Homo sapiens: one gene and its partners. The protein of the gene in region 2 purifies or fractionates together with the protein of the main gene of each other region. This does not show direct contact. Each region holds a gene or a part of one and is shown on either strand. Other genes may lie near its edges.

The links. The genes of interacting proteins can lie anywhere in the genome.
Region 1: the proteins of LRCH3 (region 2) and CALD1 purify together in Homo sapiens (affinity purification with mass spectrometry; one large-scale study listed by BioGRID and IntAct). This does not show direct contact.
Region 3: the proteins of LRCH3 (region 2) and CRLF3 purify together in Homo sapiens (affinity purification with mass spectrometry; one large-scale study listed by BioGRID and IntAct). This does not show direct contact.
Region 4: the proteins of LRCH3 (region 2) and RSU1 purify together in Homo sapiens (affinity purification with mass spectrometry; one large-scale study listed by BioGRID and IntAct). This does not show direct contact.

The regions. Positions count from the first base shown.
Region 1 is NC_000007.14:134,786,050-134,789,712, reverse strand, and holds part of CALD1 (caldesmon), read right to left. Parts: intron 1-3,663. UniProt on the Homo sapiens protein: Actin- and myosin-binding protein implicated in the regulation of actomyosin interactions in smooth muscle and nonmuscle cells (could act as a bridge between myosin and actin filaments).
Region 2 is NC_000003.12:197,797,666-197,801,328, reverse strand, and holds part of LRCH3 (DISP complex protein LRCH3), read right to left. Parts: intron 1-3,663. UniProt on the Homo sapiens protein: As part of the DISP complex, may regulate the association of septins with actin and thereby regulate the actin cytoskeleton.
Region 3 is NC_000017.11:30,786,614-30,790,276, reverse strand, and holds part of CRLF3 (cytokine receptor-like factor 3), read left to right. Parts: intron 1-2,615; exon of another isoform or gene 2,616-2,838; intron 2,839-3,663. UniProt on the Homo sapiens protein: May play a role in the negative regulation of cell cycle progression.
Region 4 is NC_000010.11:16,691,846-16,695,508, forward strand, and holds part of RSU1 (ras suppressor protein 1), read right to left. Parts: intron 3,311-3,663; coding exon 3,178-3,310; intron 1-3,177. UniProt on the Homo sapiens protein: Potentially plays a role in the Ras signal transduction pathway. Capable of suppressing v-Ras transformation in vitro.

The DNA.
Region 1 (3,663 bases), on a different chromosome or scaffold from region 2:
TTTTTAATCTGTCTACAGGATGGCCTAGAGGAGGCAACAGGGGACAGTGTGTGGCTAAGCCCCACGCTAACAGGTAGCCTCCACAGGAAATCACAGCCAATAGCTGACCATTTGTAATTGAGTGTCTATCATGTACGTGCAAAGCAGTTTCAAGATATTACTTCTAGTAGTTGTGACAACTACAAAGTGGAGGAGAAATCATCCCCATTTTGTAAGTGAAAAAAGTGGTAAATTTGAGATTCAAACTCAAGTTCTCCTGACTCCAAAGTTTGTTCTCAAATAGATCTCAATTCTTTCTAGAGCCACATACAAAAGAGGAGTCTCAGTGACGTGGAGTAACTAGCAAGAGGCAGCATAGCACAGTGGTAAAGAAGGTGGGCAGTGCCTCCAGATTATCCCGGGTTTAGATCCTGACCCAGCTACTTACTAGCTGTGGGACCTTAGCTATATTACTTAATCTAATCGTAACTCAGTTTCTTCATCTGTAAAATTAGCTGTTATGAAGATAACTTATTTTATTTTTACCTAATAAAAATCTACATGCTACTTAGCATGTGCCAGGCACTGTTCTAAACACTGAACAATGATACAATTCATGAGGAATCAATGAGCTCCAACATGAACACTGGCTTCAGGTATTTTTAAAGTAGAAATTGTAGACTTTTTTTTTTTTTTTTTTTTACTTTTTGTTTTTTTCTGAGACAGGGTCTCACTGTGTCACCCAGGGTGGAGTGCAGTGGTACAATCTCAGCTCACTGCAGCTTCGACCTCCCAAGCTCATGTGATCCTCCCACCTCAGCCTCCCAAGTAGCTGGGACTACAGATGCACACCACCATGGCCGGCTAATTTTTGTATTTTTTGTAGAGGCAGTGTTTCACCATTTTGCTCAGGCTAGTCTCAAACTCCTGCCCTTAAGCAATCTGCCTGCCTTGGCCACCCAAAGTGCTGGGACTACAGGCACGAGCTACCACTACCAGCCTGACATTTATTTCTTTCACTCATTTAACTCATTTATTAATACTATGTGCAGGACACAGCACATTTTTAGGTTCAAATCACAGCACTGAAAAAGCCAAACAAAGTCTCTACTTTCATAGAGCTTATGTTCTAGGAGCATGAGAAATAAATAAGCAAGCAAACAAACAAATATGCAATCATAAGCATACATTATGAATATGCATGTAACTGAACCACAGAGGTATTCCGCTTGGCTCTCCAATGCAGAGGCTAATTTTACCACCGCATCCCTTAGGGTCAGTGATGTGCTAGTCAATGTTTAGCAACAAGTTCTTGGGTGAGGGGAGGGGAGTCTGCTTTGTAGCATGGGCTGATTTCTGTGGTGTAATTACTTCCATCATGGTCAATTTCAAGTTCTGAATATGACATCACTGAATGAAGAATTGGGAGGAGAAGCTCAGTTGCACAGCATTTTATACAGTATTTCCACCATATAGCCACAATAGATGTAACTAACCTCAAGAGAATAGATAATAGTGAAACATAGCAAAATAATTAGGAAGAGTTTTGAGTATTTATTATCTTGGCTCTTCATATAATGTGTTTAATTGTAAGTTTATATGATTTAGTTTTTATAATGGCTGTGTTTTACAACTGGCTCTCAAAATTCTCGAAAGTTTAACAATGAGCTTTTGGGAGCCAGTATGAGTTTGGGGTGCAGAGAAAGTGGGGACAGTGTTAGAGATGAAGGAGACTGAGTCCAGATGGTGCCATTGTACAGAGGTGGATTCTAATCTAATTCCTTTTTAGCTCCTCTTCTCCAACAAGCTCTGCTTCTATGTACACACGGAAGCACCTGCCCTCTAAACCGAAGAGCATGGGTACAAATATAGTAACAATTTTGACATTCTTACTAGATCAGGTCACTCTTGCAGAGAAACTTTTGGCTCTCCAATCTTTAGTGAATATAATCCATGTACTCAGTGCTCTGAATATGGTAGATTCTTCTGTGCAATACAGAGGATGTAATTCCTAACTGCCGAATAAAGGAAGAACCTAGAGATAAATTTTCTGTCCTTCTGCAAAAGCAAATTATCCCCCATCCATGCACTCAAAGTCTCCTGTCTCTTAGGGTCCACATACTTTCAAAAGGGCCACCCAGGGAAGCATCTAAACCAGGGGCTGTGATGACTCCTGCCCTAGAGAAGATGTAGGGGTGAGGGTGGAGGTGGAGGAAGCTTCTCCCCTCTTCAGGATTTGTGCATCCTCACCACAAAGTGGAAACAGAGAAAAACATCTTCAGCTTTTCCTAGGAAGCGAAATATCTGCTCAAAACCTCCTAAGAACAGAAATACTTAAAATTTTTTTTCTCCTAGATTCACCCCTCCCCCTAAGCCTAAATTTCCCTTAGTAATGATGGCTGGAAAAGGAAGTGGGAAATACCATGAGAAATTTTATTCTTGCCACATTTCCAGTCCTTTACAAAAGCAAACACTGGAAATCTCATCAGAAAAATTTGACCTTACAGGGTTGATAACTTTGTGCTTAAACTGAAAAAAAAGCAAAACTAAAGGTTTTGCTCTTCTGGCCAAACGGATTATTTGGCATATGCAACTATAATTTTTAGAAAGAAATTATTCAAAACTAAAGAAATAGGCTTCTGAGGAATAAGTAACTACATACATCTACTATCAATTATTTTAACGATAGGTGCACAGAACTGTTTCTGAGCCAGGATGTTTTATCAGAGTCACCAGGGAACTTTTACAAACTACAGATGCCTGGACCCCCTTCTAGACCTACCGAATCAGAATCTCTAGAGGATAGGTCTCAGGGATGTGTATTTTCAAAAAGCTCTACAGTTGATTCTGATTAAGATACTGGTTAAGATGCATGGGTATATAGGCAGATTGGGCAGCATTGTATAACCTAAATTTGCTAACTGTTAAAACATGCTCTCTTACTATCAGGGGAAGTAATGTGGTATATTGAAAAGGTTAACTGCTTGGAACTTAGGAGCTGTGTGTTTTGGAACTATCTTACCACTAATTAACTGGATGACTTTGGTCAAGTCACTTGGTTTGTTATTTCATTCAACAAATATTTATTGAGATTCTGCCGTGTGCCACGCACTGGGTATATACGAATGAAAAAAAAATAGAGGTTCCTGTCCTTATATATCTGACAGACCAATAAGACAGGGCAGACATTAATCGAAGAAACCTACAAATACATACATAATTTTACTTGGTGTGGCTAGGCTTTGGAGAATAAAAAATAGATCACTGGTTCATATTTTAAAAAGAATTTCTACTTAAGATCCCAAATTTCCTGTCCCAACCTTCCCACACATAATATAATTATATGTTTTAAGTCCACTCATTAATAAAACACAAAAACACAAACTTAAAAGCTACTATGAATTCAATAACTCTTTTAAATAAATTAGCATTTTATCATTATAATGTATGTATAGAATTAGAAAAATAGTAGCACATATGATGTAAGATATATTATTTACTCAGAGTAGCTTGCCAAAAGCACTTGCTGCATATACAGATTTGTTTACCTCTTGCAATGACTTTGTGGCCTCCCAGGGATCCACCACCCAGAGGTTAAAAACCTACAGACCACATTAATGAAGACTAAAACATGGTACTTGAGTAGATATGGCCCTTCTCTTCCACAACAGATATCACTATCAG
Region 2 (3,663 bases):
TAATCACAGCTTTTTCCTTCTCCCCTAGAGGTAACCATTATCCTGATTTTTATGGCAATTATTTCCTTTTCTTTGTACTTTTAGCACTTATATTTTTTGTTTTTGAACTTTACTAAATATATTTGCACCGTATATATTATGCTTCACACTTCACTTTCTCGACATTATGTTTCTAAGGTTCATTCCTGCAACTGCATATAGTTATAGCTCATCCATTTTCTTGTTTTTTTTTTTGAGATGGAGTCTCACTCTGTTGCCCAGGCTGGAGTGCTGTGGTGTGATCTCAGCTCACTGCAACCTCTGCCTCCCAAGTTCAAGCGATTCTCCTGCCTCAGCCTCCTGAGTAGCTAAAATTACAGGCGCCCGCCACCACACCCGGCTAATTTTTTGTATTTTTAGTAGAGACGGGGTTTCACCATGTTGGTCAGGCTGGTCTCGAACTCCTGACCTTGTGATCCACCCACCTTAAACTCCCAAAGTGCTGGGATTATAGGTGTGAGCCACCGCACTTGGCCAGCTCATTTTCACACAATTGATTTATCCATTCTACTGGTGATCATCACTTAAGTTGTTTCTATTTTGTCAAATATGAATAATGCTATGGACAGTCTTATCATACTATATATCCTGGTATACATACACACAACTTTCTCTGAGAGATTTATCTCAAGAGTGGAATTTCTGAGTCACAGAATATGTGTATTTTAAACCTTCCTGGATCGTTCCAGAGCATTTTCAAAGTTGAGGCACCAATTCACACTCCCACAAGCTCCCACAGCATCGTATGAGTGTCTCCACTGCTCCACGTTCTTTCCAGTACTTGGAATCATCAACTTGTAAAGTAGTACCCACTGTGGTTTTATTTTTCAATCTCTTGATTACTGATGAGGTTCAGCACCTTTTCAAACATTTATTGGCCACTTGGAATTCCTCTTTAGTAAAGTACTAGTTCAAGTGTTTTCTCAGTTTTCTCCTGGGTTGTCTTTTTCTTACTTGTGTATAGACATTCTTAAATATTCTGGATCTAATCTGTTGCATTTATTGGAAATCTTAAGAAGACTGTGGCTTACCTTCCCACTCTCTATGATATGAAAATCATTTTTAAAAAACTGTGGGGTTTTTTTTTTTGAGACAGTCTCACTCTGTCGCCTAGGCTGGAGTGGAGTATAGTGGTGCGATCAGCGTGATCTTGGCTCATTGCAACCTCCACCACCGGGGTTCAAGCAATTCTCCTGCCTCAGCCTCCCGAGTAGCTGGGATTACAAACACCTGCCAGCACGCCTGGCTAATTTTTTTTTTTTTTGTAGTTTTAGTAGAGACAGGGTTTCACCATCATGGCCAGGCTCGTCTTGAACTCCTGACCTCATGATCCACCTGCCTCGGCCTCCCAAAGTGCTGGGATTACAGGCATGAGCCACTGCACCCGGCCTGTTCTTTTGTTTTTTGTTTTTGTTTTGAGAGCGAGTCTCACTCTGCTGCCCAGGCTGGAGTGCAGTGACGTGATCTCGGCTCACTGCAACTTCTGCCTCCCGGGATAAGCAATTCCCCTGCCTCAGCCTCCCGAGTAGCTGAAGCTGGGATTACAGGCGCGTGCCACCACAGCCAGCTAATTTTTTGTATTTTTAGTAGAGACGGGGTTTCGCCATGTTGGTCAGGTTGGTCTCAAACTCCTGATCTCAGGTGATCCACCCATCTTGACCTCACAAAGTGCTGGGATTACAGGCATGAGCCACCGCGCCTAGCCAAAAACCTGTTTTTAATGGGAAAATCTATTACCCAGTTTTTAAATAAGAAATCAGTTAAACCAGTTTAAATCCAAGGTTTAAGACTTCCTTCAAACAATAAAAATTTAGAAATTGTGAAGAGCAAAGAAGAAAGTTAAAAGTGAATAAGGAAATGCTTTACATTTTTACTACTAGTTTGATTCTAAAATTAGTCACACTGCATTTGATATTGCTGGCTGCTTCAGGAATTCAAAATAATATTCCTTTGTGTGAATTACCACATTGACCATACATTTTTCCCAAGCGCACCTGGGATATTTTACAGAGGAACTGGAAAGAACAAGAAACATGTATATAACCACACCACTTAAAGTCATACTTGATGTTCTAACATGAAGTAACGTTAACCATCCAGCTCCCAAATATAGCCACTGTAAAAGGAACTGGAACCTGGGAACTCCTCAGCCCCAGCACTGCTGTCACTCCCGTACTCTCAAAACTGGTTCAGTGGTCCTCTATGGTTCATCTTCTCACCTCCCCTAAAGAAACCATCCTACTACCTCCCCTTCCCTTCTAAGACCAATCTCAGGGGAGTCTAACGTACTGTCTAACCTAACTTCCTGCAGTGATGAGAGAGTTCTATTATCTGTGCTGTCCAGTATGACAGAGAGGAGGTTGGTCCAAGGTGCTGTCCAAAATGACATATGTGGCTACTGAGCACTTGAAATGTGGCTAGTGCAAATGAAGAACCAAGTTTTAAATTTCTATTTTAATAACCACTTACGGCTAGTTGCTACCATACTACACAGTACAGTTCTAGAAAAATTCATAGTGCATATACTGTGACTGTTACAAAATAGACATAAACAAGGATCCAAGAAAAACACAATCTCAAATTAAGACCTGGTACTCTAGTCCGTATTTCCAAGACTAATGAAACCATAATTTTGTGAGTTACAGACTGCCTCCTTGGAAAATTAAATGGCATTTTAGCAGTCCTCATTCTTCTTACCTAGAAAGTATTCATTTCTTGAAAATTTTAATTCTCATAGCTCCAATGACACTGCATTACTTTGGCTCACCCGCCACATGTCAATGTTTCCTTTTTCTGTGTGTGATTGTAGTCCACCTGCCCACAGCATCCTGCTCTCACCTGTAGGCTTTACACCAATGGTGAGTCTTTGCTTTCTCATTTTCTGTATTTCATTCAAGAGTTTTCTTCAAGCTTCAGCTATGACTCTTATTTGCCTTGTGTAAAACAGTATCACCTCACTATACAACGTTAAGAATATCATTTAATCTGAGATTGCTTCTCTCTCATTTATTTATTTATTTATTTTTTTTGAGACAGGGTCTCACTCTGTTGCCCATACTGGAGAGCAGTGGTGCGACCTCCGCTCACTGCACCCTCAATCTCCCAGACTCAAGCGATTCTCCCACCTCAGCTTCCCAAGCAGCTGGGACTACAGATGCATTCCACCACAACTGTCTAATTTTTGTATTTTTTTAAGAGACGAGGTTTGCGATGTTGCCCAGGCTGGTCTCCATCTCCTGGGCTCAAGTGATCCACTCGCCTCAGCCTCCTAAAGTGTTAAAGTGCTAGGGTTACAGGCGTGAGCCACTGCACCCAGCTTCAGATTGCTTCTCATTTGTGAAATAACTTAGAAGGTCACTATGGTTCCTTCTGGTTTTAGGATTTTTCTGGTTTTGTTTTTTTTTTTGTTTTTTTTGTTTTTTTTTTTTTTGAGATGGAGTCTCGCTCTGTTGCCAGTGCTGGGGTGCAGAGGCGCCATCTCAGCTCACTGCAACCTCCACCTCCCCGGCACAAGCGATTCCCCTGCCTGTCTCCTGAGTAGCTGGGATTATAGGCGCCTGCCAATGGCACCCAGCTATTTTTTGTATTTTTAGTAGAGACGGGGTTTCACCGTGTTGGGCAGAC
Region 3 (3,663 bases), on a different chromosome or scaffold from region 2:
GCTCTCCTCTAAGTTTTAAGTCTTGAGATGGGATTTTATTGTGAATGCTTGACCCAAGTTCCTTTTGTTCTCAGGCCCTTATTATTTAAGGCATGGAGAATATCTGAATATTTTATCTAAGCCAGTGTTGCTGTATTCCTCTCCAGCTAAGTAATTTGAATTGTCAGCGGTTGTCAGATTATACTAGTTTGTTTTGTCTAATTTTTGACACCTCACCCCTTAATGAAGAATGACTCAGTAAACAGAAAAATACCAACAAAGAGAGAGAGAGGAAAAAAAAAAACAACTAATACCTAAAATCTATTTAACTATTCCCCAGGTAATCATGAGTTTTCTGTACTTACATACCCCTTCTCTGCTTATGTCCCTTGTTTACAGAAGCACTTCGGTTAGTGACTCTCCTGAGAACAAGGTATTTCTGTGCAATGACAGAGCTTCCTAACTTGATAAATTCAGGCCAGATATCTCAGACTGCAATAATGATGATAATAATAATAATTGCAGTTAATATTTAAACAGTATTTACTATGTGCCATGTACTGTCTTAAGTATTTTACTTGTATTAACTCATTTGATTTTCATGGTAACCCAGTGAGATAGATGGGTTATTTATTTTAGGGATGAGGAAACTGAGGCATAGAGAAGTTATTTACCCAGTGTCACACAGCTAGTAAATGCCAAAACTAGGGTTTAAATCCAGGCAGTTCGACTCCAGACTGGTCTGTATTGCTTCTTTTTCATGGGAGAGTTAACATGATTCTAGTTAGTGTTGAAGTCTACAGTTTCTCTATTACTGTGTCCTTAGCTCTTTAACTTTTACCTCTTATGACCTTTCACCACTTGATCTGATGCTCTCCTGCTTTTTAAATTCTTCCTCCTTGGACACATGGTAATGTCTGATAGATTGCATAGTTAGGTTTATTTCTTAGACCATTCAGTAAATATTTATTAAGACATTGGAAATTATACAAATTGATTTAAATTCACCTCTGCTGACCGTGATGTGAAAGACACATTAGGTCTCAATAAACTGTTGAGTCTCTCTTGCATCTCCTAAAGATGCATCACCAGGCCCCACTTGGCAGGGTGATTAACTGAAATTCAGTTAAACTCAATATAATGGTAGCCAGCCTTTTGCATTTTTGTCATTTTTTTCTTTGTGGAATGAAATGTTTTCTCCCCTTGTTTAAAGGAATTTCAGGCATCAGCAGTGAAGCCAGAGATGTGAATGCAAGGGGGACTCCATGCATAAGGGCATAAGGGAGGAGCAAGTGCGCCTACTTGAATCAAGAGAAACAATATTTAGTTTTTTGAGGGTACTTAAGGGCCTAGTAGTTAGAAGGGAGACTATACTCTTGAAGGCACTACGTTAGCCGGGCACGGTGGCTCACGCCTGTAATCCCAGCACTTTGGGAGGCTGAGGTGGGCAGATCACGAGGTCAGGAGTTCGAGACCAGCCTGGCCAATATGGTGAAACCCCATCTCTACTATAAATACAAAAATTAGCCGGGCGTGGTGGTGTGTGCCTGTAATCCCAGCTACTCAGGAGGCTGAGGCAGGAGAATCGCTTGAACCCAGGAGGCGGAGGTTGCAGTGAGCCGAGATCACGCCACTGTACTCTAGCCGGGGCAACAGAGTGAGATGCTGTCTCAAAAAAAAAAAAAAAAAAAAAAAAAAGAAGGCACTACTTTGTTATTTATCCCAGTCAGTCCCTGCTGAAGCTTCTGGAAGGCTTGGAGCTGCTGAAGCCAGAGAAACCTGTGATACTGGCTGGATTTTAACAGTCTCTAGACCCACTCTCATTAGATGCCCAGGTCTGCTAGCAACCCCCTCCTTCCAGGTCTCCCTCACTTCCTATGTGAACATTCCTGCTCTTTCCTTGCTTCTAAGATTTTCTGATTTTTTTTAAGGTTTCCTTCTTTCTTTTCTTTTCTTTTCTTTTTTTTTTTTTGAGACAAAGTCTCATTCTGTTGCCCAGGCTGGAATGCAATGGCACAATCGGCTCACTGCAACCTCCACCTCTCAGGTTCAAGCGACCCTCTCACCTCAGCCTCCTGAGTAGCTGGGACTACAGGCGCCTGCTACCACGCCCGGCTAATTTATTGTATTTTTAGTAGAGACGGGGTTTCACCGTGTTAGCCAGGATGGTCTCAATCTCCTGACTTTGTGATCCGCCCACCTCGGCCTCCCAAAGTGCTGGGATTACAGGCGTGAGCCACTGCACCCGGCCTATTTTCTTTCTCATTCCCCTCCCCAGCTCTCCCCCTCTTTTTGTTTAAGACAAGGTCTCGCTCTGTCGCCCAGGTTGAAGTGCAGTGGCATGATCTCAGCTCACTGCAATCGCCATCTCACAGGTTCAAGTGACCCTCTCACCTCAGCCTCCTGAGTAGCTAGGATTACAGGAGCCACTACCACACCCAGCTAATTTTTGTATTTTTTGTAGATACGGGGTTTCACCATGTTGCCTAGGGTGGTCTTGGAACTCCTGACCTCAGGTGATCCACCCTCCTTGGCCTCCCAAAGTGCTGGGATTACAGGTGTGAGCCACTATGCCCGGCCCCTCCTCCCCATACTTCTTTAGACTGCTCAGATATGAAATAACTTCAGAAACCTACCCAAATATTATGATCCTGCATGTTTGCTATTTCACAATCAATGACATTTTGAGGCCACATTGACTATAAATAATCACATCTGTCTTTGGAAAAGCCACATTTTGTTTCACACTAATTTTTTTTTTTGTCCTTGCAAAGTTGGCTTTCTGGATGGAGAGAATGATGTGTCTGGCAATAGGGATCTGTACATTTCCTATTTCAAGAGCACACAAAGTACTGACATCTGAAATGAAAACACAAAAGGAAAAGCTTAAACTTGCCACATAGGAAGTTCTTCATGCTTGAATAGTGTCTTCATAACCATAATGGGATTTTTTAGGATTATAATAGTTCTTTTTAAATGCTTTATTTACTTAACAAATAGTAATCAAATCATTGCAAATTCTTATATGGAAGATTTAGGCGCTGGCAGCAATAGTTACATAAATTATAATGTCAACTATGACAAACCTTCTATGTGTCTAGAGCTAGAATATAAAATAGAAGTGTGCCATCATGGCTACAAATGGTTAAGAATATAGATTCTAGGCCGGGCACGGTGGCTCACTCCGTAATCCCAGCACTTTGGGAGGCCAAGGAGGGTGGATCACCTGAGGTCAGGAGTTCCAAGACCAGCCTGAGCAACATGGTGAAACCGTGTCTCTACTACAAATACAAAATTAGGCCAGGTGTGGTGGCTCACGCCTCTAATCCCAGCACTTTGGGAAGCCGAGGCAGGCGGATCACCTGAGGTCAGGAGTTCGAGACCAGCCTGACCAACATGGTGAAACCCCGTCTCTACTAAAAATACAAAACTAGCCGGGCATGGTGGTGCATCCCTGTAATCCCAGCTACTCAGGAGGCTGAGGCAGGAGAATCGCTTGAACCAGGGAGGCAGAGGTTGCAGTGAGCTGAGATCGCGCCATTGCACTCCAGCCTGGGCAACAAGGATGAAACTCCATTTCAAAAAAATAGATAGATAGATTGATTGATTCTAGAGTCAGAATGCCTGTGTTTGAGTCCTGGTTCCACCAGTCATCAGCCAGGTAGTCGGGATCAGGTTATTTAG
Region 4 (3,663 bases), on a different chromosome or scaffold from region 2:
CTCCTGCCTCAGCCTCCCAAGTAGCTGGGATTACAGGCACCCACCACCACACTCGGCTAATTTTTGTATTTTGAGTAGAAATGGGGTTTCACCATGTTGGAAAGGCTGGTCTTGAACTCCTGGCCTCAAGTGATTCACCCTCCTCATGGTGAATCACCCCACAATTCACCCCAAAGTGCTGGGATCATAGGCGTGAGCCACCGCACCCAGCCTACTGAAACTTTTTAATGTTGACTTAACTGCATAAAAGGTAATCCAAGGCTCCATGAGGAAATGAAACAGAAAAAGTTAGCAGACACATTGCTTAGACTACGCCAACCCCCCAAAATAGGATGCTAATAACAGACATAAAAACAGATATACCAATTATGTTATAGATACCTCTCATTTATCCAGAATCCTAACCACATTCAAATCAGTTAAAATAGTCTGTAACAGTGCAGAATGGTGATTAATTGCCTAATAATTACTTTGAGGTAATACAAAATCCAGAAACTCACAATTTAATCTTTTAAAATTAAAAGCACTTTCATATGCAATGTATTCTCATCCTCTATAAATTATAAAGTGATCTATGGAAAACTAAAAATTGTTAACCAGAATAATAAACAGAGAATTTCCTCTAATTCCAGATGGCTAGGAGTTTGTTCATGCATTTTTCTGTATACTATCATATACAGAATGACTTTTTTCAAGATACCATACAAACCAAGCTCTAAATAGCTTCCTGTTTACTAAGAAAAAATTAGAGCCCCATCTAAAACTCACGATAGCAATGATTAACAATTTACAAAGAAGAAGATAAACAATCATCTGCTAATTTGTGACTATATTTTCACACATTTTCATAATTAACTAATTTCTAAGGGTGAGCTACATTCGTATTTTTTTAAAAAAAATTGAATCTGTAATAACTGTACATATCTATATGGCTTATGAAACAATTAATACACATCCTATACCTATCTCATTTTATCCTTAAGGTAAGTCTTTAGACTTATACTGTAAGTGTCATAGTATTGTCTAAAGTAATCTAAACCACGCTTTACATTGCTTTTATATAGGAGGATACGGTATCATTTTGGCAATTTTAGTGTATTTCATTTTAAGGCCATTGTTCTTTTTTCTTTTTTTTGGGATGGAATATTGCTCTGTCGCCCAGGCTGGAGTGCAGTGGCACGATCTCAGCTCACTGCAACCTCTGCCTCCCTGGCTCAAGCGATTCTTGTGCCTCAGCCTCCTGAATAGCTAGGATTACAGGTGCCCCTCCACCATGCCCAGCTAATTTTTGTGTTTTTAGTTTCACCATGTTGGCCAGGCTGATCTCAAACTCCTGACCTCAAGTGATCCACCCGCCTTGCCTTCCCAAAGTGTTGGGGTTGCAGGCGTGAGCCACCATGCTCCGGCTGGCCATTATTCTTTACAGCTTGTCTTCTCTGTTTCTGTCTGGTGGAAACATGGCCACAGCAAGTGCTAAATGTTTGACCAGGAGCATGGCGCTCAGGCTGCAAGACTGCAGAAATGCAGCCAGCCACTTCTGGGCAGAGGCTCTGCCCTGCCAATCAATCCCGACCCACTGGCCTGGCACAGATTCACAGGGTTTTCTTGAGTGTGGGACATATTTCTGATACCAAAAAAAAAAAAAAGAAAAGAAACTCTTAACTAAATGTGACCTTTAGCAATCTTCTAGCTTTCTTCCAATAGTTGGGATGTTAGATTCTCAAAAGTTGGTGCCAGGCTGGGCATGGTGGCTCATGACTGTAATCCCAGCACTTTGGAAGATGAAAGCAGGATTGCTTGACACCAGGAGTTTGAGACCAGCCTGGGCAACAAAGGGAGACCCCGTCTCTGCAAAAAATTAAAAAAATTAGCTGGGCATGGTGGTGTGCTCCTGTAGTCCCAGCTACTTGGAAGGCTGAAATGGAAGGATTGCCTCAGCCCAGGCGCTTGAGGCTGCAGTGAGCCGTGATTGTGCCACTGCACTCCAGCCCAGCAATACAGTGAGACCCTGTCTCTTAAAAAAAATTAATTAATTAATTAAAAAATAAATTTTAAAAGTTGATGTCAGACACAAAAACAGATTACATTTGAGTAGGGATGTTTTTGTCTTTTTTGTATATGCTTAAAATTATACTAGATCTCAGCATTTGGGGTCAGGCAAGTATTTGATAAATGACAGTTTGTTTTGCAGCTGGGGGCTGGGATAAGGTAGGAAAATAATGACGGTACATATAACAACAGAAGCACGTGGAAGTGGCAGAATTCCTTTCAACCTTGACACATGGAGGAAGAAAGAAGCAGGAATCGTGAGGTTTTTGGGACAGTTTTGCATAGACTCCTTTCACCTGGAGTGAGGACTTGAGGTATTTGGATGCTGTGACTTTAAGCTGGCAGATTCCGCTTCCTCTCCTGCCTTCCCCTTTTCTCTAAGAGATTATCATCTCACTACAGTACAAGCTTCTCTATAATAGAATGACGCATTGCTAGTACTCTCTACTGATTTTATAAATAAACTGCTTAACAATTTTGTTCAGAACACTTGTAATTCTTTGCATTCACAGAAGAAAAAAAATATGTTCTGATCTGAATGGTGAATTTCCTTAGTGCCATGAATATTCAACTAATTTAATACCTCAAAAATTCTCTAAAGAAAATCAGTAAAAATCCCCTTGAAAATATCAATAAAAAACAATTTACAAATAGAGACAATGACCACATGCTGTTTTTTCTTGTTTTTTTCTTTTGAGAAAGGGTCGTGCTCTCTCATCCAGGCTCGAGTGCAGGGCATGACCACGACTCTGTGCAGCCTCAATGTCCTGGGCTCAAGTGATCCTCCCAACTCAGCCTCCAGAATAGCTACAATGACAAGCATGCACTACCATGCCTGGATAATTTCTTTTTCTTTTTCTTTTGTAGAGACGGGGTCTTGCTATGTTGCCCAGGCTGGTCTCAAACTCCTGGGCTCAAGCAATCCTCTAGTCTCGACTTCCCCAAATGCTAGGATTACAGCTGTGAGCCACACCACACCTGGCCGACATGCAGTTTTTAATAAAACATCTTAAAATGCTAAGTGCTAACTGCCATCAATAGGATACTGTCACATAATATTTTTAAAGGCGTAATTATAAATACTATAAAATCACAGTCTACTATTTCAGAAAATCAGAGTCTACTTACTATTTGTATGTCTCAGAACGGATATACTCAAAAACATGGGACACGCCAAGCTGGAACTGGTCTGCAATGGGGGTCACCCAGGGATTGTTCTCTGCTTTGAATACCTGCTTCTGGCCAGTTAAATCCAAGTTTCCTGGGGGGGGGGAAAAAAAAAGTGAAGGTCACTTCATCCAATACAGATCAGGTCTAAGAAGTCCTTCTCAGTAATCACAGCCTAAGTACCCTAAATCAAACCCTAAGTGCCTCTTGGATCATTTGATGTCTTTTAAATTTCTTAACCCAAGTCATCACAGGTACACAGTCATGACAGTACCTTGGCCCCAGAAATTAAGAACAAAGGAAGGAAGAAAGAAGACAGATGGAAAAGGAAAGCAGAGCAGAGGGAAGGAGGTATTTGCTGCAGAGACAAAAATGACTTGTTCAAAATTAAGAGAAGTGATAATATGAAAACCATTTAAAATTCTATCTTGACCATGTCAGTATGCA